Linked DNA regions of Homo sapiens. The protein of the gene in region 1 purifies or fractionates together with the protein of each later gene. This does not show direct contact. Each region holds a gene or a part of one and is shown in the gene's direction. Other genes may lie near its edges.

Region 1 (7,326 bases):
CATGTACAGGAATTCCTCCATGATAGGTATCTAGCAGTGGAATTGCTAGGTCCTAGGTACTACGACCACATATTTATTGTCTCAACCAAGACTCCTTTAAGAGTGAAAGGAGACACTTAATGATTTTACTGAGGCGAAGCACGTGGCTCACGCCTGTAATCTCAGCACTTTGGGAGGCCAAGGCAGGAGGATCACTTGAGCTCAGAAGTTTGAGACCAGCCTGGCCAACATATTGAGTCCCCATCTCTACAAAAAATACAAAAATAGCTGAGTGTGGTGGTGCACACCTGTAGTCCCAGCTACTCCAGAGGCTGAGGCAGGAGGATGGGCTTGAGCCCAGAAGATCGAGGCTGCAGTAAGCCATCATCGTCCCATTGCACTCCCGCCAGGGTGACAGAGCCAGACTATGTCTCATAAAATAATAATACTAATAAAATAATAGAAATAACTTAAACCATGGGTGAAAAATTGAATTGTTCTGGGAAAAATCAAGATGTATAGTTATCAAAGTGATAAGATAATGTGCTTTTTAAACTTTACTAGATAATACCAAGTGGTTTCTCAACATGGATGTTCAAAGGTATACCTCTTTCAGCTCTGTTGCTTATTTTTCTAATGGATCATTTAGTGTGCTTTTATTAATTTGTAGGGATTCTTTATGTATTCTTCGTGTTAATCCTTTCTCAGTTACATTTGTTTGTTTCACTTTTTTTAGGTTTTTAATGATAGAACTTTCCATTTTAATATAGCAGATGTATCCATTTTCCCTTTATGGTTTGTACTGATTATGCCTAGTTTAAGAGGCTTTGCCTACTCTGAAAATATATTCTCTTATATTTTCTTCTGAAAGTTTTGAAGTTTTGCCTTTCACAGTTAATTTTTGATCCCCCACCCCCGCCCCGCCCGAGACGGAGTCTTTCTCTGTCACCCAGGCTGGAATGTCGTGCCTCAATCTTGGCTCACTACAACCTCTGCCTCCTGGGTTCAAGCGATTCTCCTGCCTCAGCCTCCCGAGTAGCAGAGTAGCTGGGATTACAGGTGCCCGCCACCACACCTGGCTAATTTTTGTATTTTTAGTAGAGACGGGGTTTTACCATGTCGGCCAGGCTCATCTTGAACTCCTGACCTCGTGATACGCCCGCCCCGGCCTCCGAAAGTGCTGGGATTACAGGCGTGAGCCACCGCACCCGGCCTTCACAGTTAAGTTTTTAACGTCCCTGAGATTGATACTGTGTCTGTGGTGAGACAAGATTCCAAGTTTATTTTTTCCCAGCTGCATGATTTGTCTACACATCACTCAAGGAAAATCGTCTCTTCCTTTGATGTGTGCTACATATTCCCTTGTGATAGTTCAGTCTTGTTTTTTTTTTTTTTTTTTTTTTTTTTTTTTTTTTTTTTTTTGAGATGAAGTTTCGCTGCTGTTGCCCAGGCTGGAGCACAGTGGTGCGATCTCGGCTCACTGCAACCTCCGCCTCCTGGGTTCAAGTGATTTTCCTGCCTCAGTATCCCAAGTAGCTGGGATTACAGGCGCCCTCCACCACACCTGGCTAATTTTTGTATATTTAGTAGAGACAGTGTTTCACCATGTTGACCAGGCTGGTCTTGAACTTCTGACCTCAGGTGATCCACCCTCCTCGGCCTCCCAAATTGCTAGGATTACAGGCCTGAACCACCGTGCCTGGCCCAATATTTCAGTCTTTATACCATAGATTTTTGATGTATTCTACATAAATAATCATACACGAAGAATGAAGGTTTGTATTTTTTTCTTTTCAGTTTTTATTGTAGCTTTTAGTTATTTTTCTTGCCTTAATCCTGCCCGAGGACTCCAGTATTAGGCAGCATAAAAATGTTGAAGAGGACATCTTTATCTTTTTTCTACTTTTAAAGAGAATGCTTTAAACGTTTCACTGTTAATTTGAGGTTTCCTTTAGGTTTTTGGTAGATACCTTTGATTGCATTAAGGAAGTTACTTTCTGTTGCTAGTTTGCTGACAGGTTTTATCTTGAGCAGATGCTGAATTTTATTAGATACTTTCTTGTGCATCTATTGAGATAGTCATGTACTTTTATTTAATCTATCGCATTAAACCAACAGTACATTTCTGGGATTACCTGAGTTTGGTAGAAAATAAATACATTGCTGATTCAGTTAGCTAATATTTCAAGATTTTTGCATGTGTGTTCATGAGTGAGATGATAGCTTCCCTTTTAGTATGGCCTTGTCAAATTTTGGTCTCAAGGTTATATTAGCCTTATAAAGTGAATTGGGTCATGTGTCTTTTTTCTTCTCTGCAAGAATTTTTGTACTGTAGGAATTATCTGTACGGAATCTTTGGTAGAATTCACTGGTAAACCCTCTGGACCCTATATTTTCTTTGTAGGAAGACTTAACTACTGGTTATACTTTTTTTATGGTTATAGAACTATCTCGTCATATATACATGGTTATTACTAGTGTCTGCTTTGCATTTGAACCTTACATTGGAATAAGATTAGAGTAAGGAAACCCTTGAAGTGAAGAAGCTATTTTGCTACAAATTATATGTCCATTCTCACAAAATCTTATGTATATAATTTATATAGATGTAGCTTTATAATATATGTATGTCTTCCCATTCATAAAAGCATCATCTAAATCACGTTTTATATCATTTTTATTTGAGCATTCCTCTTGATTTTCTAGAGAAGAAACCCTCAGATCCTTACTTACAAGCATTTTCCTGCATCTAGATTTTATTTGTGTGAAAGCAAAAGTGATCATCCTTGCCCTAAATTATTAGGGCTTTTTATTACTTTGGTATTTACTTAAGAATAAAATTTATTTTTTTATTTTCTTCTCTTCTCAAAAGTGGTTTGCAGGTATTAATGAAAATTTTGGACATTCCCATTTTATCAGTTCTCCTTAATTTACAATTTATAAAGTTTTTAAGCTTTATAATTTAGAAGCATTTTACCTTAATTTTTATTATTTTGGTGGTTTTTCTAGGCGATGTTTTTTGTTATTATATCTCTGATAAACAGATTTCCCTAAATCTTACAGGTTTAAAGCAGCTTCATCTTCACAATAGTAAGAATTGTTTCTTTAAAAAGTTTCTTCACAAAGGCAATAAAACTTTTAAAATCTGTGAGATTGAATCAGAATTAGCTTTAGAACCTAGAATTTTGTTAGGGCTGAGGGTAGATGAGACGGAGGGAAGATCCCTTTCTCTCATCATTAGCTTATATCGAAATCAATTCTTATTTCTAAAATAAAATACGCAGACCACGCTAGTGCCTTCAAGTCCTGCTGGGAGACTTCAGAGGGGGCACTGCCTCATGCTGCCTGTTTGCTCCTTGTGCCCGGCCTCTATCCCTGCACAGGAAGGACCCGAAGGAGCAGCCTTACCATGCACAGGGGGCTCCCCCTTTGGGGTTCTAGGGCAATTTGTTCTTCGGGCTCCCGGTGAAACATGGCAGGAAAAAAAACGTTTTACTCCTTTTCATTGGATTTTTTATTCATTTATACTTAACAATTATTGGATGAATGTATAAGGGAATTAGTAGCTGACCAGGCTGAACCGGAAACTTCTTCAAAATGTATAACTTGGATTATGTACTTTAAAATAATGTTTTGGGAAGGCTGACTCATTGGGAATACTATGATGGAAGTGTTGACAGTGAGAAAAGGGTAGTCTTATCTAGAGATCAGCTAAGTGTCATTTTTTAAGTAAAAAAGGTACGTGTTGTTTTATTCTGAAAAAAATCCCTTATCTTTTATCATAGTCTCTTAGATTTCCTTAACTTGAATTTGTTCACTATGAGAGTAAAACTACATAAAGTAAAAGTTTTTCAAGAAAAAGAACAAATACTTTTTTACAGTTTGAGCTCTTTGTCTCATTCTTTGGCTGGTCCTGGTTTCCCCACTCACTAGCGGTGTGATTTCGGCTTACATAGCCTCCCAAGGCCTCAGTGTCCTCATCTGCGAAACGAAGACAGTGATAGCAGCTGTCTCGAGGGGTGTTCTGAGAATCACACAGGCATATGTATATATAGCCAGGGGCATAGTATGTGCGGATAAATGTTAGCTAGTTGTGTTGTCAGCTTCAGCCATCAGTGCTTAGTGAGTGTGCTGTTTTCTTACTGTTTAAATTTTTCATGTCATTCGCACTGTATCAGATTTCCAGAGTCAGGCAGATAATATGAGCTGGGGCGTGGGGCGGGGGTAGGGGCGGACGGCATGGGGAAGTCAAGAGACTATTACAAATTGAAGAGTCTTGGGAGGGCTTCATGGAAGAGGAGGGACTTAGCTGACTCTCAGAATGAAGTAGTGTTTATATGGCTGGAACCTCACACCTACTGGAATGGCTACTATGAAATAAAAACAAAATAACAAGTGTTGGCAAGGATGTGAATTCCAAGGCTTGTGCACTGTTGGTGGGAATGACAAACGGTTCAGCCACTATGAAAAACAGTTTTTTGGTGCCTCAAAAAAATTAAAAATAGAATTACCATATAATCCAGCAGTTCCTTCTAGGTATTTACCCAAAATGATTGAAAGCAGGGTCTCAAAGAGCTGTTTGTACAGCCACGTTCATTGCAGCAGCATCCACAATAGCTAAAAGATGGGAGCAACCCACGTGTTCAACAACAGATAGCTGGATAAACAAAATGTAGTGTATGCATACCATGGAATATTTTTCATCCATAAAAAGGAAGGAAACTCTGACCAAGCTGTAGCATAAATAGCCCTTGAGGACTTTATACTGAGTAAAATCAGCCAGTCACAGGAAGACAGTTATCGGGTGATTCCACTTATTTTATAGTAGAATGGTGGATGCTCTAGGCGGGGGAGATGGGTATACGGGGGAATGTTTAATGGGGATGGAATTTTAGTTTTGCAAGATAAAAAGTGTTCTGGAGATTGGTTGCACAGAAATGTAGATGTACTTAACACTACTGAACTTAAGGTGGTCAATTTTATGTGTATTTTACCATAATCAAAAGCACATGGATAAGAAGCTGGAGAAATGGAAGTCTGCGTCATTTGAATCTATAAGCAATACTCATTTTTCGGTTGAGGTGAATGAAGATCACGCTCAGGGGCCTTCTCTCTGTCTTTGCTTTCAGGGTCATGGAGGACGCTGGCGGCGGCGAGGAGACCCCGGCCCCGGAGGCCCCGCACCCCCCTCAGCTCGCGCCTCCGGAGGAGCAGGGGTTGCTCTTCCAGGAGGAAACCATCGATCTTGGCGGAGATGAGTTTGGATCCGAAGAGAACGAGACCGCATCGGAAGGCTCGAGTCCTCTCGCGGACAAGCTGAACGAACACATGATGGAGAGCGTCCTCATCTCTGACTCCCCCAACAGCGAGGGCGACGCGGGCGACCTGGGCCGAGTGCGGGACGAAGCTGAGCCCGGAGGGGAAGGCGACCCAGGCCCGGAGCCCGCGGGCACCCCGAGTCCCAGCGGCGAGGCCGACGGCGACTGTGCCCCCGAGGACGCGGCACCCAGTAGCGGAGGGGCCCCGAGGCAGGACGCGGCCCGCGAGGTCCCAGGCAGCGAAGCCGCGCGCCCGGAGCAGGAGCCTCCCGTTGCGGAGCCGGTCCCGGTGTGCACCATCTTCAGCCAGCGCGCGCCCCCAGCCTCCGGGGACGGCTTCGAGCCGCAGATGGTGAAGTCGCCCAGCTTCGGTGGCGCCAGCGAGGCCTCGGCCAGGACACCGCCCCAGGTCGTGCAGCCCAGCCCCAGCCTCAGCACGTTCTTCGGAGACACGGCCGCCAGCCACTCCTTGGCCTCGGACTTCTTCGACTCCTTTACTACCTCCGCCTTCATTTCCGTCAGCAATCCCGGCGCGGGCTCCCCGGCCCCCGCCAGCCCGCCTCCCCTCGCTGTGCCCGGGACCGAGGGGCGCCCCGAACCCGTGGCCATGCGAGGGCCCCAGGCAGCTGCGCCCCCGGCGTCGCCAGAGCCTTTCGCGCACATCCAGGCAGTGTTTGCAGGGAGTGACGACCCCTTTGCCACCGCCCTGAGCATGAGCGAGATGGACCGGAGGAACGACGCCTGGCTTCCCGGCGAGGCTACGCGTGGAGTCCTGCGGGCCGTGGCCACCCAGCAGCGCGGCGCCGTGTTCGTGGACAAGGAGAACCTCACCATGCCGGGCCTCAGGTTCGACAACATCCAGGTGAGCCCGGGTCTCCCACCTCCGCAGCCCGTGCCTCCTCTCTGCGTCTGTGAGATACGCACAGTGCCCCTTTAGGGATGGAGAAGGAGAAGGCCTTGTTTTCAGTAATTCCTAACATCCCATTGTGAGCGCCTGTGTTCCTCTGTCCCTGGGTAATTAGGGATCTGTTGGTTTCCCCAACAGAACATATTTAATGGACTGCTACTCAGAGAGGTAGAAATAAATACCACCAAGGCAGACAGTTCTACCGTAATTCTCTCAGTCAGTTCTCCATGTCCTGTAATCCATTTGACATTTGAACTCCAGTTAATAATAAATCCATTTCTTTCTTTAAAATATGGAAAAATATATTCCTGTAACATATAATGTGCCCGATGTAGAATTTTTATAGGTTGAATAAGAAAAATACGCGTGACCCAAAAAGTAACAAATCACAGAAATATATAAATGTTAAGCTAAATGGTAACATACAAATGTTCGATCTCACTACTAATGAAAGACAATTGATGCAGGGTTTTTTTCGGTGCCGCTTTGCCAGCTGGAGACCTCCGTGGTCGGCGATGCCCCTGCCCAGGCCTCTCTCGGCCCAGGTTCGCCCACTAGGCCTGCCGGGCCGCACCTGGCTTGCGCTTTGGCATATCCCGTGGCCTCGGTGACTGTGCTCTCAGCCCCCAGCAGGTGGGTTGTGCGAGCAACTGAGTGTAGGGGTCCGGGGGCTGCTCCAACCGCCAGCATAGGAGCAGGCTTCACACGGGGCTTGTAGCTGGACCAGGCGTGTGGCAAGTGACTCCCACAGTGGACTCCTGCGTCCAGGCGAGGGGAACACCGTGGCGCCCGAAGAGCAACAACCGCGACCCCGAAGCCCGAGAGGGGATGTTACAGCGTGCACACAGCTCTTTTCGACCCGCATCTGCTGCCGGACTAACGGGCATCTTAACGGCTCTAAACGGGCGCATTAACAGACCACTGCTTCCCGTTGAGTGGGGCAGCCGAAGGGGGTGGGGGATGGAGGGTTACAGTGTTATTGCTGTCTTGGTACCTGCACTCCGCGGAGTCCTGAGTTCTTGTCCTGCCTCCAAGAAGAACGAGATTATGCCGACAACCAGAGTGTGAGGAGGGCGGACGAGTTTTATTGAGCACAAAACAGCTCTCAGCAGAGAGGGGAGG
Region 2 (8,295 bases), on another chromosome or scaffold:
CCCTCCCCCCTCCCCCCACCCCACAACAGTCCCCAGAGTGTGATGTTCCCCTTCCTGTGTCCATGTGTTCTCATTGTTTAATTCCCACCTATGAGTGAGAACATGCGGTGTTTGTTTTTTTGTCCTTGCGACAGTTTACTGAGAATGATGATTTCCAATTTCATCCATGTCCCTACAAAGGATATGAACTCATCATTTTTTATGGCTGCATAGTATTCCATGGTGTATATGTGCCACATTTTCTTAATCCATTCTATCATTGTTGGACATTTGGGTTGGTTCCAAGACTTTGCTATTGTGAATAGTGCCGCAATAAACATACGTGTGCATGTGTCTTTATAGCAGCATGATTTATAGTCTTTTGGGTATACACCCAGTAATGGGATGGCTGGGTCAAATGGTATTTCTAATTCTAGATCCCTGAGGAATCGCCACACTGACTTCCACAATGGTTGAACTAGTTTACTGTCCCACCAACAGTGTAAAAGTGTTCCAATTTCTCCACATCCTCTCCAACACCTGTTGTTTCCTGACTTTTTAATGATTGCCATTCTAACTGGTGTGAGATGGTATCTCATTGTGGTTTTGATTTGCATTTCTCTGATGGCCAGTGATGGTGAGCATTTTTTCATGTGTTTTCTGGCTGCATAAATGTCTTCTTTTGAGAAATGTCTGTTCATGTCCTTCGCCCACTTTTTGATGGGGTTGTTTTTTTCTTGTAAATTTGTTTGAGTTCATTGTAGATTCTGGATATTAGTCCTTTGTCAGATGAGTAGGTTGCGAAAATTTTCTCCCATTTTGTAGGTTGCCTGTTCCCTCTGATGGTAGTTTCTTTTGCTGTGCAGAAGCTCTTTAGCTTAATTAGATCCCATTTGTCAATTTTGGCTTTTGCTGCCATTGCTTTTGGTGTTTTAGACATGAAGTCCTTGCCCATGCCTATGTCCTGAATGGTAATGCCTAGGTTTTCTCCTAGGGTTTTTATGGTTTTAGGTCTAACGTTTTAAGTCTTTAATCCATCTTGAATTGATTTTTGTATAAGGTGTAAGGCAGGGATCCAGTTTCAGCTTTCTACATATGGCTAGCCAGTTTTCCCAGCACCATTTATTAAATAGGGAATCCTTTACCCATTGCTTGTTTTTCTCAGGTTTGTCAAAGATCAGATAGCTGTAGATATGCGGCGTTATTTCTGAGGGCTCTGTTCTGTTCCATTGATCTATATCTCTATTTTGGTACCACCATGCTGTTTTGGTTACTGTAACCTTGTAATATAGTTTGAAGTCAGGAAGTGTGATGCCTCCGGCTTTGTTCTTTTGGCTTAGGATTGACTTGGCAATGCGGGCTCTTTTTTGGTTCCATATGAACTTCAAAGTAGTTTTTTCCAATTCTGTGAAGAAAGTCATTGGTAGCTTGATGGGGATGGCATTGAATCTGTAAATTACCTTGGGCAGTATGGCCATTTTCACGATATTGATTCTTCCTACCCATGAGCATGGAATGTTCTTCCATTTCTTTGTATCCTCTTTTATTTCATTGAGCAGTGGTTTGTAGTTCTCCTTGAAGAGGTCCTTCACGTCCCTTGTAAGTTGGATTCCTAGGTATTTTATTCTCTTTGAAGCAATTGTGAATGGGAGTTCACTCATGATTTGGCTCTCTATTTGTCTGTTATTGGTGTACAAGAATGCTTGTGATTTTTGTACATTGATTTTGTATCCTGAGACTTTGCTGAAGTTGCTTATCAGCTTAAGGAGATTTGGGGCTGAGACAATGGGGTTTTCTAGATATACAATCATGTCATCTGCAAACAGGGACAATTTGACTTCCTCTTTTCCTAATTAAATACCCTTTATTTCCTTCTCCTGACTAATTGCCCTGGCCAGAACTTCCAACACTATGTTGAATAGGAGTGGTGAGAGAGGGCATCCCTGTCTTGTGCCAGTTTTCAAAGGGAATGCTTCCAGTTTTTGCCCATTCAGTATGATATTGGCTGTGGGTTTGTCATAGATAGCTCTTATTATTTTGAGATACAGCCCATCAATACCTAATTTATTGAGAGTTTTTAGCATGAAGAGTTGTTGAATTTTGTCAAAGGACTTTTCTGCATCTATTGAGATAATCATGTGGTTTTTGTCTTTGGTTCTGTTTAAATAACTAAAATCAGAGCAGAACAGAAGGAAATAGAGACACAAAAAACCCTTCAAAAAATTAATGAATCCAGGAGCTGGTTTTTTGAAAGGACCAACAAAACTGATAGACTGCTAGCAAGACTAATAAAGAAGAAAAGAGAGAAGAATCAAATAGATGCAATAAAAAATGATAAAGGGGATATCACCACCGATCCCACAGAAATACAAACTACCATCAGAGAATACTACAAACACCTCTATGCAAATAAACTAGAAAATCTAGAAGAAATGGATAAATTCCTCGACACATACACCCTCCCAAGACTAAACTAGGAAGAAGTTGAATCTCTGAATAGACCTATAACAGGCTCTGAAATTGTGGCAATAATCAATAGCTTACCAACCAAAAAGAGTCCAGGACCAGATGGATTCACAGCCGAATTCTACCAGAGGTACAAGGAAGAACTGGTACCATTCCTTCTGAAACTATTCCAATCAATAGAAAAAGAGGGAATCCTCCCAACTCATTTTATGAGGCCAGCATCATCCTGATACCAGAGCCGGGCAGAGGCACAACCAAAAAAGAGAATTTTAGACCAATATCCTTGATGAACATTGATGCAAAAATCCTCAATAAAATACTGGCAAACCGAATCCAGCAGCACATCAAAAAGCTTATCCACCATGATCAAGTGGGCTTCATCCCTGGGATGCAAGGCTAGTTCAATATATGCAAATCAATAAATGTAAAGAATAAATTTTAAATCACTTCATTTTACGGCTCAGAGGTCTGTTTTGTGGACACAGAGACAGAAATGGAGACGTTTTTAAAATTAAGATCATATTGCACATTGGCTTTTTTTTTTTTATACGGAGTCTCGCTCTGCTGCCCAGGCTGGAGTGCAGTGGTGCAATCTCGGCTCACTGCCAGCTCCGTCTCCTGGGTTCACACCATTCTCCCGCCTCAGGCTCCTGAGTAGCTGGGACTACAGGTGCCTGCCACCAAACCTGGCTAATTTTGTTTTTGTATTTTTAGTAGAGACGGGGTTTCACCGTGTTAGCCAGGATGGTCTCGATCTCCTGACCTCGTGATCCACCCGCATCTGCCTCCCAAAGTGCTGGGATTACAGGCGTGAGCCACCGCGCTAGGCTGCATATTGGCTTTTTAAAATTTCACTTATCACTTAACATTATATGATATGCAATTTAAATGTTCTTAAATATTCCTGAAAAACAAGTTTATGGTTGCACAGGGTTTATTTTCTACCAAAACCAAATTTGACTATCCTCCTCCTAGTGTTAGATATTATGTTCAACTTTTCACCATAAAAAACAATGCATAACTTGCAAAAACCAAAAAAGAATTATTGGCTGCAATATTCAAATGAAATGATAAAAATCAAAATCAATACATGTTGAAGTAAATGTCTACAAAATACACTATTATATCAAATTAACTGTTAAATTTAATTCACTATTATTATTTTTTTAAGACAGAGTCTCACTATCGCCCAGGCTGGAGCGCAGTGTTGCCATCTCTGCTCACTGCAACCTCTGCCTCCCAGGTTCAAGCGATTCTCCTGCCTCAGCCTCCCTAGTAGCTGGGATTACAGGCGCCCACCACCACATCTGGCTAATTTTTGTATTTTTAGTAGAGATGGGGTTTCACCCTGTTCGTCAGGCTGGTCTCGATCTCCTGACCTCAGGCAATCTGCCCACCTCGGCCTCCCAAAGTGCAGGGATTAAAGGCGTGAGCCACCGCGCCCGGCCTGTTAAATTTAATTCATAAAATTGTTTTGTTACATTTGAAAGCAATTTGTGAGTTGAATGCTTACTCATCAGGAGCATTCCTGAAAACGGACAGGACAGTGAGTTGTAAGAGCCAAACGTGAATTACAAATTGAGACAGCCAAATTGCAAGAGCCAAGTTAATTTTTAAAAACACTTTCTGTATCTTACGGCACAACAAAACACTTTTACTACAAAACATGTATTGTATAACGGATGTGGCTGCGTTTGACAGTTTGAGATGACACTGAGGAGTGTGAAAGAGAGCCTGGACCTTCAAAGCTTGCAAACGGCCCGGGCTATTTCTCCACCTCTTCGCTACTCAAAGCGCTGGCATCGTTTCCTGGGAACCTGTGAGAAATGCCGAGTCTCGGACCCATCCAGAGCGCCCGAATGGAAACCTAGGCGTTACGAGGCCCCAGGTTCAGCGTCTCACGGGTCCTGCACCACCTGGGACGCCCCGCAAGCAGCGGGCATGCCGGGCCCCCAGAAGACTCCGAAAGCCACCCATTCCCTAAACGGGGAGGGCCTCGTCCGCGCGTCCCAGCGCCCTCCCCGGAAGCCCCGCCGCTCCCACACCCAGGATGGGGCCACATGGGCACTAAAAGGCGGGCAGGAGCGCCCAGTCTCGAGATGGCTGGCTCGCCTTTCCAGTCCGGGCCCTCGGGGTGCCCGTGTGAAAAGATGTGACACTGAAGCCTGGGGAAGAAGTTTGAACCTCTCACTAATTCACGTAACGGGAGCCGCCGGCAGCGCTGACGGCTGCACCTCCCCTCCCACGCGGACACTACCTGCAGGATCGGACGACCCCCAGAACTGTTTGCCAACAAAGACATGCAGGGGGCGGAGCCTGAGCGTCAGATACCGTGAGCGGCGTGCAGAGGGCGGAGCCTAGGAGTCAGATACCGCGAGAAGTAGTCTCCCGAAGAGGTTCGGACAAGCGCAGGCGCACTACAATTCCCGCCCTGGCCGCGAAGGTGGCACCCGCAGCGGGAGGCGGGGCCGGGCCTTCGGGACAAAGATCGCGAGATTTAATGGCGAGTCACAGCTACTTCTTCCTGGCAGAGACCGGAAGTGCGGTCCGCGGAGCGTCTCTGGCGCTTACCCTGCTTTGGGCCTGCGTTGCTGCTGCTGCTCCTCCGCTCCCCCGTCGTATCGCCTGCCCTGGATCGAAGTGATGGGGGATGCCAAGGAGGCCGGAGCCGAGGGTCCGCCGGCCGGGGCCGCCGCTCGAGGAGGGCTCAGCCTCCTGTCCCAGGGAGAATCCGAGGAATCTTCTGCACAGGTGAGTCCTCCGCGGAGGGGGACCTGCCAGGGATGTGGGAGCGGAGGACCCGCTCCACCGGGGAGGGATGCCACGGTTCCCGGCAGATTCTGGAGGCTTCTCCATGTTTCCCTGACACCCCCAAAACAGGGAGTTGAAGTCCATGCTCCAGTCGGCAGGTATTCGTATTAAAAGCAGTTCTGGTAGCCGACAGGTGAATTAGATACGATCTTTCCTCTCAAGGAGGGTACATGTAAATATGTCGTTCCAAAACGTGGCACAGTCGTGCAAAGCAGGAGGGAAGAAACGGTGCCAGGTAGTGACTCGCCGAGAATGAGACCGAACTAATTCACAAAGGGTGTAAAATGTTTGCCATGCAGAAGAGGTACTGCGTGAAAGGTTAGAATATTGAACCCAGACGCCGAACTTGCTTTGGGAGTGTGCAAGTGCAGGCTGTGAGGAACGAACCCCCAATGCCTTTCTATGAAGTTAGAGACTCAAGAGTATTTGAACCATGCATGCATGCATGAACCGATGCATCGATTACTAAATATTTGCATTAAAACAAAAAGCCCAAATGTTCTACCAGACTATTTTATGAATGATGTGTTATTAAAATTAAAATACATCTTTGGCCGGGCGCGGTGGCTCACGCCTGTAATCCTAGCACTTTGGGAGGCCGAGGTGGGTGGATCACCTGAGGTCGGGGAGTTCGAGACCAGCCTGGCCAACATGGCAAAACCCTGTCTCTACTAAAAATACAAAAATTAGCCGGACGTGGTAGTGCACGCCTGTAATTCCAGCTACTAGGGAGGCTGAGGCAGGAGAATGGCGTAAACCCCAGAAGCCGAGGTTGCAGTGAGCCATGATTGCTCCACTGCACCCTAGCCTGGGCGACAAAGCAAGACTGCGTCTCAAAAAAAAAAAAAAAAAGAATTAAAATACATCTTTAATACTGAAAATAGGCTTTACTAAAGTTTGCATCTAGTTAACATGATACCATTGAGTCTCCTTGGTTTCTGCTTCTCCACTTTACATGAATACATTTTAAAAGAGATGTGGGTGGTCCATTTTCTAGCTGATAACCATAACCATCATACTCCTTGACTCATCTTTTTTCTTTGAAGTTGGTGTAAAAGAACTAAGTAAATGTTACCATTTATGCTCAAATTTATTAAGTGCTGTTAGTAACATGTGGCATACGTTCCTTGTGAAGCCTGGTGTGACAGGTTCTTGTTTTCTTTTTATAAAGGTGAGATTTTTCGTTCTTAGTAATTTTCATTAAAGTTTCACCCAATGTGTTAATTAGGGATCAGCTTTATTTCTTGGAGGCAATGAAGTGAAGAGCCGAGCTGTGGTGAAATACTCTTCTGCCCCTCCTCGAACAGCATTTGCACGCCTTGAAGAGAAAACAGACTTGAAACTCCCACCTGCCAACTGGTTACGAGAGAGTGCCAAACTAGGGCCAGCAGGAACTACCATTCTTGGCAACAGCAAGAAAAGCAAGCCATTTTCAAGGTAAATATTAATCAGTGGCATTTTTACCTGCCCCTCCACCCTCACTTAAAACTCTTATTTGCTTTTAAATTCAGTTTGTAATGCCTATTAACTTGTCGAGATTTCTCTTTAGAGAAAGATCACATTTGATTTTCAAAGGCTTTTTATTCTGATAATAGATGATGTTAAAACATGAAGATATACATACAATATCAATTGCATATGCTTCTTTTAAGTCTACGTCATGTTATCAGCAAAGATGAGTTTTGACTGCCAAAGTTCAATCAGCCCTTTCATTTTAGCCAATTTGCATACCTTTTGGATATGTGAATACAAAGGATCAGCTTGGTGCATGAGGAGGAAAACCTTGAACATTCCTTCATCTTTCCTGTGGAGTTTTTCATTAAATGGTGGCAGGTTGATCTGGAAAAGCCAGATTTAAAAACCCAGCATGTTGGGTGACCTACACCTTGACTTTGACACCAGAACTGATGGTGTTCAAAGTTGAGAGAGTAGCCTGAGGTCTTATAGAGAAAAATGTATTAATGTACATACTGTAGGACATTTAATGTGTAGGGTTCTCTTTTCTTCTTCCCCCTTCTCAGCAACTCAATCTAAAATATTTCCATGTAACTTGTAGCAAGAGGCACAAATACACTAATACTTTATGAGCTGGTATTTTGGAAATTATCCTAAAGCCTCAGAAAATAAAAGTTATATTTGCAAAAATGCTGTTTGTTTGTAGCATCATTTATAGGAGCAAAAAGTTGGGAATAACCCAAATATCATTTTTTAAAAGAATGGCTTAATCAGTTGTGATTTGTCAACATAATTAAATGTTGTGAGGAAATTTGAATAATTATATTGACTCTATACAAATGCTGTGGCAAGTATTTATATGCTTATCTCATTTAATTCTCACAACAACTCTTTGAGATAGGCACTGTTAATTATATTGCACCTGAGAAAACGGAAGCTGAGAAGAGCTAAATAATTTGGCTCAAGCATACAGTAAATCACAAAGCATGCTTTGCTGTTAGGTAGTCCTTGGTAAGTGTCCTGACTCTGCCATTTAGTAGTTGGAACATGGTGATGTCGGGTACCTTTCAGGCTTATAGACTATAGATGTGCTTCAGGTGGTACGTGGCATCAGTTGGCTGCTCAATTAACATTTTTTTTTAATTTCCTTTTGTGGCTGAATTGGTGTCAGGTACATTTTTTTCATGTATTTTTTTAAGAGGTATTGTATATCACTAGAAACACAATCTCAGAAAGTAAAATCCTGATAAATGTTTCTGTTTCTGTTTTTCTTATCTCTCCACCTAAAAAGAATAAAGTTTTGAACTATTTTCCCTTGGAGACTTTGAGTTTTGTGATTACAAAAATAAAGAATAATTGTTTTTATTCTAAATATTTCCTACTGGATGCTTCTAATGATTATTACCATGTTTTATCAAATCTAAGATGCCATTGACTTTAAGACACACCATTATTTTAGTACCACTAAGAAAAAAAAACTTGCCAACTGTGATGGTGATACACATCCTGGTTTCAGAGTTGTTAAAATGTGGAAAATGTGTATCCTAGAAGCAATGAGCTACAGTATTGTTATTAAGCTCTACT
Region 3 (7,846 bases), on another chromosome or scaffold:
TACAGTCAGCATGACTGTATAGCAGCGGTGGCACTGCTATTCTTCCATCTGGTAACTTTATGTATCTTTCCTTTATTGTTTGTCCTCTCTCTGTCTGAAAAAATTCTTTTTCCTCTTTAGAATAAGTTGGCACCAGATCAAGCATTTGAAGGAGTAGCAGGGCTGTGACTGATGTCTGGTAAGGAGTAGATGCTGCTTTTCCTGCCTCTGTGTCTGCTCAGGGCTTTCCTTGGCAAACCGAAGCGGAAACTCGCTGATATCCCCTGCAATGCATGAATGCCACCTTTTGGGGTTTCTACACTGCTTCTAATCATTGTAGAATTTCTTGCTGACATTTTATGTCTTTTCCTCTAGAATTTTTTCCTTATACAATGCTCCACATACTTGAAGGGTTAGAAAGGCATATCAAGAATCAGTATAGATGTTTACAATCTTAGGTTCACTGAGTTCCAGAGCCCGAGTTAGAGGAATGAGTTCTGCTTTTTGGGCTGAAGTGCTCTGAGGCAATGGCTTAGCTTCAACAACATCATCTAAGTTTACTACTGCATATCCTGCACACCTTTCTCTTTGCGGGTTGATGAAGCTGCTTCTGTCCATGTAGAACTCCTAATCTACCAATGCCTATGGCTGGTCTCAAAGATCTGGTCTGCTAGAATAGACATAGTCCAACACCTCTACACAGTTATGTTTAACAGGGCTGTCTGATACTGGGAGCAAAGTGGCAGGATTTAAAGAATTACAGACTTCTATGGTTATACATTGATTTTCACATAACAAGCTTTGGTGTTTAGTTAATGTAGCATTTGTTAGCCAATGGTGTCTTTTGGTGTTCCTTAGAGTTACATTAGAGTCAGCTTGGGCTGACATAAGTTTTTCTTTTAACTTATAAGTCTTGTTGTTGTAGAGACCTCTATTTAAAAGGCTCTCGGTCACCCCCTTTATAACTCCATTCAATGCTTTGGCTAACACCACAAAGTTTGGAATCTGCAGTCTGCAAAAATCTCACAGCTCCTAAATGTTCTCTTATTTGCCTCCTGGTTTTAGGTTCTGGTAAGCTGCAGATGACCTGCTTTCTTGCTGACCATAGACTGCACTCCCCTTTTCAAATAGTGAATCCTAGGTAGTGTACCTGCTGTCTGCAGATCTGAGCTTTCTTTTTGGGCACTTTATATCCACAGTCCTCCAGGTGTCGAAGCAGGGCACCCGTCCTTTTTGCACACCTGACTGCCATGGAGTGTCCTAGCAGAAGGTCATCTACATACTGGAGCAGGATGCAACCTAGGTCTTTAGCAGGAAACATTTGGAGGTCTCCAACCGAGGCCTCCCGAAAGATGGTGGGGGACTTTTTGAACCTTTGGGAAAGTCGAGTCTAAGTGTACTGAATGGTGACATCTGACTCCGGATCTTCCTACTGAAAGGCAAACAGCTTTTGGCTCTCAGGAACTAGCCTGATGTGAAGAAGGCATCTTTCAAGTCCTGTACGGGTCGATAGTCTTTGGTCCTTGGTTTAGGGACAGGTAGGAGGTGGGTGTTCCATGGAGACTGGCAAGGAACTAGAATTCCAGAGGCTTTTAAGCATATAAGATGAGTCTCTATTCCTTTAAAGGCTTCCCTGGGAACAGGATACGGCTTTTGTCCAATTGGCTAGGTCGTAGGCTAAACTTCTATGAGTACGGGGGCTTGATTGATTGCCAGCCTCAGAGGATTGTCCTCCATCTCTACTCAGAGCCGTCACTCAGCTGGAGCCACTTTTATTTCCTGAGCTGGCTCAGTTAGCAAAAGTCTCCACTCTTCTTCCTGGGGGACTGGAAGGGCCATGATGACTCCTGTTTCTGGCAACTCCAGCTGTAAAGTGCCTTGTTTTGTCAAGGAAATGGTGGCTCTTAACTTGCTAAGCAAGTCTCTTCTCAACAAAGGCAAGGGACAGTCAGACATATACAGAAATGGATAAATCACTTTGTGTCCTCCCACTGAGCAGTTGCGCGGTAGACAGAAGTCCTGCTTGGTAGAGACTCCTGTTGCTCTAATTCTATCAATCGTCTTTATAGATGAGGGGGCCACTGGAGTGCTTACTACTGAGTGTTCGGCTCTTGTATCCACTAAAAACTTAATGTCTTTGCCCCTTATTGTCATCCTGACCATGGGCTCCTTGGGGGCATTTGAGCCTGTTCCCCTTAATTCTAGCAGCCCCTCAGCTAGATTGAACAAAATCCTTTCATCTTGGTTTGAGGTCTTTGGCTCTGCATCACTCTGATTTTCTTTGAGTTGGGGACATTTATCTTTCTAATGTCCTATTTCTTTACAGTAGGCACATTAGTCATGCTGCAAATGTGAGTGATTGGACAGGGCATTCCTCCCAGAACCCCCTTTTTTCTGCCTTTTCAGGAGAATTCCTCTAATTGTCACAGCCAGCAAACTAGCGTTTCACCTGGCCTGGCGTTCGCCCTCCTTACGGCTTTCTTGGCCGCTTGTTGCATCTCTATTTACAAATACTTCATTAGCTCTTTCCAGTAACTGCAAGGTTTTCATTCCTGCAAACCTAGCCTGTTTTTGCAATTTTCTCTGGATATCTTCTGCACTCTGAATAACTAAGGCCGTATTAATCAACGGCTGATTTTCAGGACTCTCCAGATCGAAAGGAGTGTACATGCAATAGGCCTCACACGGTCTTTGATAGAACTGGGCTGGGCTTTCCTCCTTTCCTTGGATGACTTCAGAAACTTTATTTACATTGGTACCCTTTTGAGCCCCTTTTTTCAACCTTTCAATTAATGCCTCTCGGTACCCTCTTAGCCTTTCCATATCTGGTCCTTCATTTGGATCCTATTGAGGGTCCGTTCCTGGCAGCTGAATTCTTATGTATTCTTGGGGACTTTGATAATTGGCTGGGATGTGCTCCTCCAGCCATTTAACTGTTGCCTGCAGCACCTGTTGCCTTTTATGTGTTTTAAAGAGGTACATGAGTAGCTGGTGGCAATCAGCCTAAGTAGGATTCTGAGTCTGGATAATTCTTTGAAGCAAGTCAATTAGGGCTTGAGGCTTTTCAGTGTAAGATGGAGTGTTATTTTTCCAGTTGAGTAGTTCAGCAGAGGTAAAAGGGTGATACACAAAAGCATGCCTTTCTACCGTATGTCTGACCTCATCTGTCCTAGTATATCGCTGCTCTCTCAGGGCATTTGAATTCCCGTCTTGGGCCGTTAAGCGGGCTGCCAGGGAAGTGGATTTTCCCGCAGTTTCACTTTTGTTCTTGTCTACTCTGGGTGGTCTAGGGGCTGTGGGCTCAGGAGAAGGGGGCCTCCCCACTGGATAAGGGGTTGAGGGCACTGTTGGTGCCATCTCCTGCCTTGAGTCCTCGAGCTCTGGGTCAAACAGAACTTTAGGTGCTGGCTTCTCTTGGCCGGTGGAGCGAGAACTTTCCTGAAATAAATGTCCCTTTGCTACTACTACTGCTGCTGCCTGTCCTTTTACCACTGTAGAGGATCTAAAACTAGCTGTAACTAGGAATCTCTATATGGAAATTGATATGGGTGCAGGCACACCATGAGCGATCAGGCCAAGCTTCCGCTCAGGTGGAGTGGGGCAAGTTGAAAAGACTTGTCTTACTAAGTTTCAGATGTCTGGACTCCAAGTGCCAGTTCCTTCCTGGTGTTCAGCCACTGTGTTAATCCTCCGCGGGGATCACTGCTCTGGCGAGGCGTTCAACCGGGGCCATTTCCTACCTGGGAGCGCTCTTTGGATCCCATCCCTCAGGCTGGCCAGAGTCCCTGGCAGCCTGAGGGATGCCCCGGCCTTACTCCACAAGGCATGCCTAATCTGCCTAAGGAGCTGCCTCGGCCGTCCATCAGTTATCTTGCTTCCAGGTCAGGGAACCAAGAAATGTAGCAGGACAAGCGGCAGACAAAACTCTCAGACACCGAGTTGTAGAAGGAAGGGTGTTATTCACCTGGGAGCATCGGATAGCTACTGTCTCAAAATCCGAGCTCCCCAAGTGCACAATTTCTGTCCCTTTTAAGGGCACACAGCACTAAAGATGTCACATGAAAGGGTCGTGATTGATTTGAACAAGCCAGGGATATGCGACAAGGACTACATGCACCCGTGGTCAGGGAGAAACAGAATATGGAAGGGAGTTTCACAATGTTCTTCTATACAATGTCTGGAATCTATGAATAACATCGGCTTCTAAATCATAAGTTGATTTGTAACTACTGGGTTTAGGCCAACCAGGCCCAGGCCTGGTTTTGTGCCTTTGATTTTGCTTCCTTGTTGTTTTTACTGAATAGAAAACAATATAAAACAAGAGGACAGGGTCTTTCTCTCTTCTCAATATCAGCACTGGATTGTAGAACTTGTTGCTGATTTTGGCCTGGCATTCAAGTTAACTCTTCCCCTTGGTATCTGTACATACCTTTGATGTCAGTGTTTAGTACACGTGGCTTGGTCACTTCATGGCTAAAAACGTGCTTGTGGAAGACAAGTCTGGCTTGGTGAGTCTGTGTGGTCAGCAGTCTCTGATCCGTGCAGGGTATTAATGTGTCAGGGCTGAGTGTTCTGAGATTTATCTAGAGGCTGGGAAGGGCTCCTGAACCAGTTGTTTCCGTCTTGTCGGTCTGTCAGGGTTGGAAAGTCCAAGCCATAGGACCCAGTTTCCTTTCTTAGCTTACGTTATCTACCAGAGCACCGTGGGCTGTTACTTGCCTTGAGTTGGAAGCGGTTCGCATTTATACCGGTAAATGTATTCATCCTTTTAATTTATGTAAAGTTTTTTAGTATGCAATTCTCGATCTTTTAAGAGTTGACAACAAATTTTGGTTTTCTGCTGTTATGTGAGAACATTAGGCCACAGCAACATGTCATTGTGTAAGGAAAAATAAAAGTGCTACCATATGCAAAAAAAAAAAAAAAAAGAAAAGAAAAGAAACATTAATGTCTAAGAGGTCATTGAGATGATTTCCATGAGAGACTTTTTGATGTTCTTCACCAGTTAGGATTATTATTGATAATCCTTTTCAGATTATGAATAAACAGTTTGCCCTCAAGTATTTATTCATGCTACTATTTACATTGTAAAATGTGCTTCTTACAGGAATATAAATAGTTTCTGGAAAGGACACTGACAACTTCAAAGCAAAATGAAGCTCTTTTGGTTGCTTTTCACCATTGGGTTCTGCTGGGCTCAGTATTCCTCAAATACACAACAAGGACGAACATCTATTGTTCATCTGTTTGAATGGCGATGGGTTGATATTGCTCTTGAATGTGAGCGATATTTAGCTCCCAAGGGATTTGGAGGGGTTCAGGTGGGTATGATTCATAGTATCAATTGCAGAATTCACTGTGCTTGTAGTAAACACTATTCTGATCTTCTACGTGAAGCTTGGGCAACATTTTACTTCACAGGTAAGTATTCTAAGTAAAAGAATTTTCTGAGGAAAAAACAATGTAGTATTCTTTGCAACTGTATATTTTGTTTCTGATATAATCTTTCTTCAACAAGAGCCCTCCGATGTGCTGTTAATATTTTCAAGAGATAGCTGCCTATACCAAGATTCAAGAATCTTTTGTATTATTGATTAGATTCTAGAACATTCAATGATATACAGTAAGACAGAATTTGGTACTTATGAAGACTGTTTAATTTGTAGGTCTCTCCACCAAATGAAAATGTTGCCATTCACAACCCTTTCAGACCTTGGTGGGAAAGATACCAACCAGTTAGCTATAAATTATGCACAAGATCTGGAAATGAAGATGAATTTAGAAACATGGTGACTAGATGCAACAATGTTGGGGTAAGTGAATTCTAGTTTCCTTTAAAAATAACAGATAGGAAAATGATTTCTGTCTCTTCTTTCTTGCTCCTTTTGAGCAGAAAGTTTTCCATATCAGTTTTAATTTTACTTCATACTTTAAAACTCAAAAGTAACTGTCACCTTATGTTCAATTTTTGAAAATATTTGTATATGTGCTCTCTACTAAAGAGATAAGTTAAAGTTTATAGCAGAGTTTACTTCTGAAGCAAAACATCAAATTTTAACCGCTATAACTATCCATATTTCCTGGAAGGATTTTCTGGTGAGGAATTTTAATTCCAGTTACAATATTTGCTCTCATTTTTAGATGACTTGTGTCTCCATTCCTAATTCTTGGGTTTTTTTTGTGGTGAATAGGTAGCTTATCTATTTAATGAGGAGCAGAATTTGAGATGAATAGCTACCTTATTTGTCTTCCAAGCTTAGTAGAGAGTACAGGCTTTCTCCTGGTGACCCACTGAAATTTCCCAAATAGTAACCTTTTCAGTCTCATCTGAGTTGTGTCTCCCCAAAATGGGCTTTTTGCCTTTCCTCCTATTTATGGTAGTTTCCGGTTCTCTCAGTTTATCATTCCTATATATATTTGGCCAAGTGTCTGGAATGAATGTAGGTGTTTAGTTCACATTACTTTCCTTTCACAGTTGATTTTTGATCTTGTAGGAAAATAGTTATAAGGTATGAAATATTTTGGAATTTTATTAGCACACTATAAATTTAATCAATAATTCTTTAAATTTCTGCCTCTCTGTAAGTCACACTGAATTAGAAACTTTGTTTTCTAGGTTCGTATTTATGTGGATGCTGTAATTAATCATATGTGTGGTAATGCTGTGAGTGCAGGAACAAGCAGTACCTGTGGAAGTTACTTCAACCCTGGAAGTAGGGACTTTCCAGCAGTCCCATATTCTGGATGGGATTTTAATGATGGTAAATGTAAAACTGGAAGTGGAGATATCGAGAACTATAATGATGCTACTCAGGTAATTTTTTTACGAGAGTGATCTGAATAAGGAGTGATATATGCCTTTTGTTGTAGACATGTAGCTAATTGAACTTCGTTGTAAATATGAATTTAGATCTCTTAGGGACAGAGGTTAACAAGTTTGACTACTTTAAGAAACTCAAATCCATATTTGAAAACCTTTAAATATTGATTTAAGATTTTTAATCAATACACATTTGTCCACTTTTAAAAAGCTCCCAACCAATTGAAAAACTCATCGACTTTATTTCCTAAGTTCTCTATTTTCTATTAGAAAATATTTCCAAGATACATCTATAGTAGAATGTGAGCATCCCCAGTGTCCAATGCAAGGAAGTCACCATAGAATATCTCTTGAGGAATCATGGAATAAATGAATAATCAAATGGATTCTCAGGCGAAAAGTGAGGTTTTATTAATCAATCATAACATTCTTACCTCAACAGGTCAGAGATTGTCGTCTGTCTGGTCTTCTCGATCTTGCACTGGGGAAGGATTATGTGCGTTCTAAGATTGCCGAATATATGAACCATCTCATTGACATTGGTGTTGCAGGGTTCAGAATTGATGCTTCCAAGCACATGTGGCCTGGAGACATAAAGGCAATTTTGGACAAACTGCATAATCTAAACAGTAACTGGTTCCCGGAAGGTAGTAAACCTTTCATTTACCAGGAGGTACGTCAATACATATAGGCATATAAAATATCATCCTATTCATTAGAAAATTCACGGCAGATTCAATTAAAAATGCAATTTCTGTAGGATAAAGACTGAGTCATTTCCTTAAAACAGTGTTCTTTAACCTCCTCTTCTTCACATACAGCATATCTAATTCTTTATCACAACAGGTTTTATGGAGGTACACAGAATGTAGGATACTGATAATAGTTATGTCTTTATTTTCTTTGGAAAATGAAATGAGTTAATATTTATCAAAAAAAGTCAGTCAGATAGTAAATATCGTATTCCTGTGAGCTGTTATTATTATCATTGATGTACAAGACTAAAAATTAGGTAAGTATTCTCACAGGACAACAGGTAACTTTGAC
Region 4 (7,326 bases), on another chromosome or scaffold:
GTTGTCAGATCTGTTAGTGGGCAGTATCAGTAGGTAAAAATAATGAAATTATTTCTTCTAACTCTTCAGAATCAGACAGTGATTCTATTGTGAAATGATGACAAGAATCCATACTCATGGTTATCCTAGCAGTGGGAGAACCCTCATCAAGTAATTCTCTAATGATTTTTGGGGAGAAGGGATTCAACTTATTTTTTTCTGCTGTTGTTAGGATGTGAAAAAGTCTGTTTTATGGCTCTTACAGCTTTGGGCCTGATTAGCAAGCCTAACTTGCAGATATTGGAAGGCTCCATTCTTGAGCCTATGCACCATATGCTGGAATTTATTATCAGTGACTTAATTTGGGGCAACTTGAGGACTTCTGTGCTCTAAGAGAAAAAAATAGGAGTCTAGACTTCTTGTTCTCTTCCAAACTGGAATTCAAAAGCCATGGTATTGGGGTCTCCATACTGTTTAATTGCCTGGATTATGAGGAGAAGACAGTGTCACAAAACTGGTTCTTAGCCTGGTTAAACCATATTAGCAAAGTTAAACCATATTAATGGTTTTAGTTTTTACTACAGAGAATGACGTGAAATCATCAAATATTCTATCTATATATTTGTTTGGTGGAATCCATATAATTTTTTTTTTTTTTTTGAGACGGAGTCTTGCCCTGTCACCCAGGCTGGAGTGCAATGGGAGTACGATGGCGCGATCTCAGTTCACTGCAAACCTCAACCTCCCGGGTTCAAGCGATTCTCCTCCCTCAGCCTCCTGAGTAGCTGGGATTACAGGCACACGCCACCACAGCCGGCTATTTTTTGTATCTTTAGTAGAGCCGGAGTTTCACCATGTTGGCCAGGCTGGTCTCAAGCTCCTGACCTCGTGATCTGCCCGCCTTGGCCCCCATAAAGTTCTGGGATTACAGGCATGAGCCACCGCACCTGGCAAATCTACATAATTTTAAGTATAAAATGATTAATTTTCTTCCAGACAGATTAGAATTTTTTTTTTTTTTAATGAGATGAAGTCTTGCTCTATCGCCCAGGCTGAGTGGCATGATCTTGGCTCACTGCAACCTCTGGCTCCCAGGTTCAAGCTATTCTCCTGCCTCAGCTTCCCTAGTAGCTGGGACTACAGGCATGCGCCACCACACCCAGCTAATTTTTTTTTGTATTTTGAGTAGAGATGGGTTTTCACCATGTTGGATTAGAATTTACAGTGATTTCATTGTCCTCAATTTAGTTGCCTCAAATTTTTAAATATTACATTTTTTGTTAATTCATATGAAAACAATATTTTAAGAATCATTCATTTACTCTTTGTTTCTGCTAAAGTTTTAAGACTATTATTACTTAATATATTAATATCGATACTTCCAAGTCCTTTATATCTATTGAGTTAAACATGTTGACTACTAGCGTTTTTAGGCAGGAAGTGATTTTATAGGGCATCTAGTTCAGATCCCTTATTTTGGTAAGAGAAAGAATTTTCAGGTTTGTAGATTACATTCACATTTACCAATAGCACTTTGGTAAAATACCACATTGGGATTGGTTTTTGTTTTTTGTTTTTCCTTTTCTCCCTGCCTGTTGGTAGGCAGGGTATCCCTACCATATCTTATTCTTTGCAATACTTCTACTTTAGGTCCTGTTTCCCTCTGATTTGGCAAGAGAGACAATCTTGCAATAATAAATTAACATTCTAGCTCTGAGGAGTTCAACTAAGAAATTTTCTCATCACTAAGAGTAACTGGATTACTGCAGAATGACTACAGAAGTAATATTACATTATCGACCATGTGAGAGTGATCCCACACAACTGCCAAAAATTGCAGAAAAAGCAATTCAAGACTTTCCTACTCGTCCGCTATCAAGATTTATACCTTGGTTTCCATATGATGGGTCCAAGCTTCCACTCAGACCTAAAAGATCACCACCTGTGATTTCTGAAGAGGCAGCTGAAGATGTGAAACAGTACTTAACCATTTCAGAACATGATGCTAAGTCACACAGTTATGATTGCACAGTAGATCTATTGGAGTTTCAACCTAGCTTGAAAAAGCAGCATTTAACCTGGTCACACACACTGAAGGAACAGACTAATTCTGGAAATCTGGGTAAACAATCAGAAAAGGGAAAACAGCACAAGAGGAGATCTTGGAGTATTTCCCTTCCCAGCAATAATTGTACTAAAAACGTTTCTCCTTTGTCTAAAAAATTGCAAGATAGTTTAAAGGCACTAAATTTACACTCACTTTATAGAGCAAGATGGACAATAGAACACACTATTTGTAACAGCCAAACTCTGGAAGACATTTGGACAAAACTCAATCAAATTATTAGGCACAATGAACTTCCATCTTGTAATGCTACAATTCAGAGGCATTTAGGCCAAATATGGGTGTTCTGTGATATTATGTATTGTGAATATGTGGGAAGTCTTCTTAAAGGAAGATTAGCTCTTACTGGAAAAATTAATTTATTTGTGCATAAATATGGTGTTATTTTTAGTATGTAATGAATTCCACTGATTGTCAAAAAGAATATTCTGAATGAAATGAATATGGATTGAAATAGATAAAATAATTTTTACAGGTTTTAAAATTTTTAATGACTTTTTAGAATTCCTAGGCTTGTCAATTAAGTCAAGAAATTGCTGAGTTCTGCTTATTGGCAGCCTTCTTTTAAATGTGATAAATTATTGTTTACACTGAATTTGAAGGTAAAAATGTTCTGTTCCTTTTGTTACAAACTGTGATTGAATTAGTCATGAATTAAGTTGTATAGTTTGGATTTTGGTTAATCTCTAAAATCTAATTTTACTGTATTTTTTTCCTTACCTCAAGTGTAATTTTTTAAAAAATAAAACTCGAAACAATTCTCTTTGGAGTGCTATTTATGTGGCATGAATGTAGTTCAAAGTGGGAGACTAGTCTAGATTTATAATGATGTTTCCAAAGATATGTAATAACAATTGATAGGCTGTTTTCAAACAACGATACAAAATGTATACTTTGCCTAAAACGATAATGTATCCTGTTTTGAAGGAAAGTATCAAATGTTGAATGATTGTTTATTTCTTCTAATACAGATAATTCAGTATTAATGATAGTTAGTGCTAATTATTACTTGGCTGATGATTGGAGTCATTGTAGGTTCCCCATAAGCATAATCTTGTAATTGGTTTTACACATCACCTCATAAAAATGCTCAAAGGGATTAAAACAGTAAAAGTTTTGTAGAAGCATGTATGTTTGTTTAACATATTTAAATGCCTACTTTGCACTAGGTGCTAGGATATACTAGGGAAGGAGACAGACATGGACCTTGCCCTCACACAGCTTACATGTCATTACTACTATTAAACACACCAGCTCCCTAAGAAAAATAAGACTGCACTTAACTAGGAATATAGACATGTTTACCTTGAAGCTCAGTGCCTGTCATGGTAGGAGCTTGATAATGCATGGTAAACATTCCCTTCAGAGGGATTCTTCATAGCCTGAGATGGCTGAGGTTGCTTAAAATGGAAGCCCACTAATTTTTTTTTCTTTCTAACTTTTATTTTAGGTTCAAGGGGTACATGTGCAGATTTGTGATATGGGTAAATTGTGTGCCACAGGGGTTTGGTGTACAAATAGTTTTGTCACCCATGTAATCAGGATAATACCCAATAGGTAGTTTTTTAGTCCTCACCCCCTGCCACCTTCTACCCTCAAATAGGCCTCAGTGTCTATTGTTCTGTTTTTTGTGTCCATGTATACTCATTGTTTATCTCTCACTTATGAGAATATGTGGTATTTGATTTTCTGTTCCTGCATAAATTGGCTTAGGATAATGGCCTCCAGTTGCATCTACGTTGCTGCAAAGGCCATAATCTGAAAATATGAAGAAAAAAGTTGCTTTTAATACCAAGTTGGGATCACTTTATTTTTAATGGAGGATCATTTTTTACCCACCATCTCATCCCCTGCTAAACCACAGGAATCATGAAAAACTAAGCTTTATAGGACTTTTCTTTATAATAGAAATTGGAACCTATAATAAGCAAATATGTTAGCTACATGTTTGGGTGAACTCCAGGACACTAAGAAAAAAAAAAAAGGAATGTTTCAGGATTCCCTTGAGACTGTATTTTCTCTTTATTCAGATTTGTTTTCTAATGAAATGAAAAAAATAATAGGGAAGAAATAGAAAACACCAACTGGTACTAAAAGTGAACTTACCAGCCTGGGCAACATGGTGAAACTCCGTCTCTACAAAAACTACAAAAATTAACCGGGCATGGTGGCATGCGACAGTAGTCGCAGCCTCTTGGTGGGCGGGGGTAGGGGGTGGGTCTGAGGCAGGAGGTTCACTTGAGCTCAGGAGGTCAAGGCTGCAGTCAGCCATGATCGTGCCACTGTAGTCCAACCTGGGTAACAAAATGAGACCCTGTCTAGTGATTTTAGCTGTTTAAATTGGGAGAAACTGCCTCCTGTGTATCACTTTCAGGGCACCTTTTTATCTGTTTTCAGGGCACCTTTTTCTCTGTTTTCGTAGTTAAAAATAAGAGTGAAGGTTGGAAACGCCTCCCCATATTCATCTGTAGCTGATTAATACTCTTTGGAATACATTCCTACTTTGAATTCCCATGGGGTATTTCTGGTAAGGCATGACATTCCAGGTTTATGGCTCCAGGCTTATAATTAATAATTATTATAGAGAATTATTTTTCAACAGAGTGAAATCACCAGGGTTCAAATCTAGATTCTACCACTTATCTACTAATATAATCCTTTGTATGCAAATTACCCTCTGCAGGTATTGTCAATGCCCTATCTGTATATTGGGGTTAATGTAATACCAACTTAGAGAGTACTCATGAGAATTAAATGTGTTCAGCTTGTAAAATATTTAGCATAATGCCTGGCGCTAGTAAATGCTCAGTAAATGCTAGCTATACAGAGTAACTTCAGAAATTTTAAGGGTAGCATTTGTTGACTATTTCAAAAGCCAGCTGCTTAATATAGCAGGTTTTTAATTGCCTTCAGTTTCTGAAACTTACACTTTCAAAATAATGTCAGTTATTTAGGGACTTTCATGAAGTGCTAATTATTTTATTCAGGGAAGATCTGAATAGCAGAACTTACACCAAATATGGATGCTACAAAACTGAACGTAGTACATAAGAGCCTAGACCTCATGGAGTTTGGAAAGGAGTGCTATAAACAAATAAATATACTGCATGATAAATACAAGGTACCATGAGTGAAACAGAATGACCTGTTACTTTTTTTCTGAAAAAGATGACATTTAAGCTGAAACCAGAATGAGAAAGCCACTAAATTTGATATGAATGCCATAGTTGGTTAATTAGTAGTTGGGTGGTACATTTTTACATATGCTAGAACATTACTTATATTCTGAATTGACCATGTAGGTCTATAGTCTTTATAGTATTTTGGCTTTGATTTGAAGGAATTTTTTTTTTTTTGAGGCGGGGTCTTGCTCTGTTGCCCAGGCTGGAGTGCAGTGGGCGATCTCAGCTCACTGCAAGCTCCGCCTCCCGGGTTCACGCCATTCTCCTGCCTCAGCCTCTGCGAGTAGCTGGGACTACAGGCGCCCGCCACCATGCTAGGCTAATTTTTTTTATTTTTAGTAGAGACGGAGTTTCACCGTGGTCTCGATCTCCTGACCTCGTGATCCGCCCGCCTCGGCCTCCCAAAGTGCTGGGATTACAGGCATGAGCCACTGTGCCCAGCCAGATTTGAAGGAATACTTTTAATAATGAACTAGCCCTCTGTGATTCATTTTCTGAAAAATTTTACAAGTTTTTATGATTTTTTAATTTTATGTTTTTGTTTTTATTTTGATGTGGTCAAACGACAGTCTTTAGAAGTAACTGAAAAAGATTTTTAAAAAAATTATAGAGTGTTTACTCATTAGACTATAATAAATATTCAATTTCTTTTTTTTTACTTTTCTGTGGCTTAATTTTTGTCTATTTATATTTAAAGTGAATTTTTTAGTTAAATTTTATTTTCCCAGATAGCTAACCATGTCTTTGCACCTTATAATGAATAATCCTTTTGCTAATTGATTTTTTTAACTTCTAATCCTTTAATTGATTTTTTTTTGTCAAGAGGTTGTTTTTTAAAATATCTCTCCCAGCGTTTTTTTTTTTTTTTTTTTTTTTTTTGAGACGGAGTCTTGCTCTGTCGCCCAGGCTGGAGTACAGTGCCGCAATCTCGGCTCACTGCAACCTCCGCCTCCCGGCTTCATGCCATTCTCCTGCCTCAGCCTGCCGAGTAACTGGGACTACAGGCACCCGCCACCACGCCCAGCTAATTTTTTGTATTTTTAGTAGAGACGGGGTTTCACCGTGTTAGCCAGGATAGTCTCAATCTCTTGACCTCGTGATCCGCCCGCCTTGGCCTCCCAAAGTGCTGGGATTACAGGCGTGAGCCACCATGCCTGGCCACTCCCAGCAATTTCTTTATATAAGTATATCCTATCTTTTTTTTGAAAAACTAATATATCGGTATGGTCTTATATTAATAAGTCAATTAGTTGATTATGGACTTAAATATGTTATAATATGTAGTAAATTCAGTTCTTCCTCTTTTTTCTCCGTTAATTTCCTTAGCTTATTTTCATTTATTTGTTTCTCTAAATAAACTTTAGACACATTCTGTCATGTTCCAAAAATAATATCTTACTTTTGATTGGAATTATATAAACGTATATGTTTTCTGACATTTTTGTAATTTCTACACAGAATTAATATTACTTGAAGAAACACTTGGCCGGGCATGGTGGCTCATGCCTGTAATCCCAGCACTTTGGGAGGCCAAGGTAGGCAGATCACTCGAGGTCAGGAGTTAGGGACCAGCCTGGCCAACATGGTGAAACCCCGTCTCTACTAAAAATACAAAAAAAAAAAAAATAACCAGGCATGGTGGTGCATTCCTGTAATCCCAACTACTCAGGAGGCTGAGGCAGGAGAATCTCTTGAACCTGGGAGATAGAGGTTGCAGTGAGCCGAGATCGCACCACTACACTCCAGCCTGGGTGACAGAGTAAGCCTGTCTCAAAAAAAAAACAAAAAACACTTACTGAGTTTCCAAAGTTAATATTTTGTTGATATTGTTTATGGTGAAATCACTTAGAATTTTTTTAAAGCCTTATGCTCCTAATACTCTTTAAGCTTTAAAAATTATATTTTCCAGTTTTTCTATAATGAATGCATATTGTATTTACATTTAATTTTTATAATTCATAGGTTGTAAATAAATGGTGCTTATTTTGTAACATTACAATTCTTAATAAATCACTGATGTGTGATAACCTTAGGAAGTAT

What was found.
Region 2: the proteins of TRAPPC12 (region 1) and EDRF1 purify together in Homo sapiens (affinity purification with mass spectrometry; 3 studies listed by BioGRID and IntAct, with this or other methods). This does not show direct contact.
Region 3: the proteins of TRAPPC12 (region 1) and AMY1C purify together in Homo sapiens (affinity purification with mass spectrometry, with the first as the bait; 3 studies listed by BioGRID). This does not show direct contact.
Region 4: the proteins of TRAPPC12 (region 1) and TRAPPC13 purify together in Homo sapiens (affinity purification with mass spectrometry; 3 studies listed by BioGRID and IntAct, with this or other methods). This does not show direct contact.

The regions. Positions count from the first base shown.
Region 1 is NC_000002.12:3,382,512-3,389,837, forward strand, and holds part of TRAPPC12 (trafficking protein particle complex subunit 12), read left to right. Parts: intron 1-5,108; 5' UTR 5,109-5,112; coding exon 5,113-6,159; intron 6,160-7,174; exon of another isoform or gene 7,175-7,326. UniProt on the Homo sapiens protein: Component of the TRAPP complex, which is involved in endoplasmic reticulum to Golgi apparatus trafficking at a very early stage.
Region 2 is NC_000010.11:125,714,720-125,723,014, forward strand, and holds the start of EDRF1 (erythroid differentiation-related factor 1), read left to right. Parts: upstream 1-4,989; 5' UTR 4,990-5,088; coding exon 5,089-5,196; intron 5,197-6,484; coding exon 6,485-6,693; intron 6,694-8,295. UniProt on the Homo sapiens protein: Transcription factor involved in erythroid differentiation. Involved in transcriptional activation of the globin gene.
Region 3 is NC_000001.11:103,745,338-103,753,183, forward strand, and holds the start of AMY1C (alpha-amylase 1C precursor), read left to right. Parts: upstream 1-4,560; 5' UTR 4,561-4,729; intron 4,730-5,086; 5' UTR 5,087-5,132; coding exon 5,133-5,300; intron 5,301-5,645; coding exon 5,646-5,792; intron 5,793-6,595; coding exon 6,596-6,793; intron 6,794-7,241; coding exon 7,242-7,472; intron 7,473-7,846. UniProt on the Homo sapiens protein: Calcium-binding enzyme that initiates starch digestion in the oral cavity.
Region 4 is NC_000005.10:65,627,839-65,635,164, forward strand, and holds part of TRAPPC13 (trafficking protein particle complex subunit 13), read left to right. Parts: intron 1-1,629; exon of another isoform or gene 1,630-1,749; coding exon of another isoform or gene 1,750-2,502; exon of another isoform or gene 2,503-3,090; intron 3,091-7,326. Other genes in the region: SHLD3 (shieldin complex subunit 3), read left to right, coding at 1,750-2,502.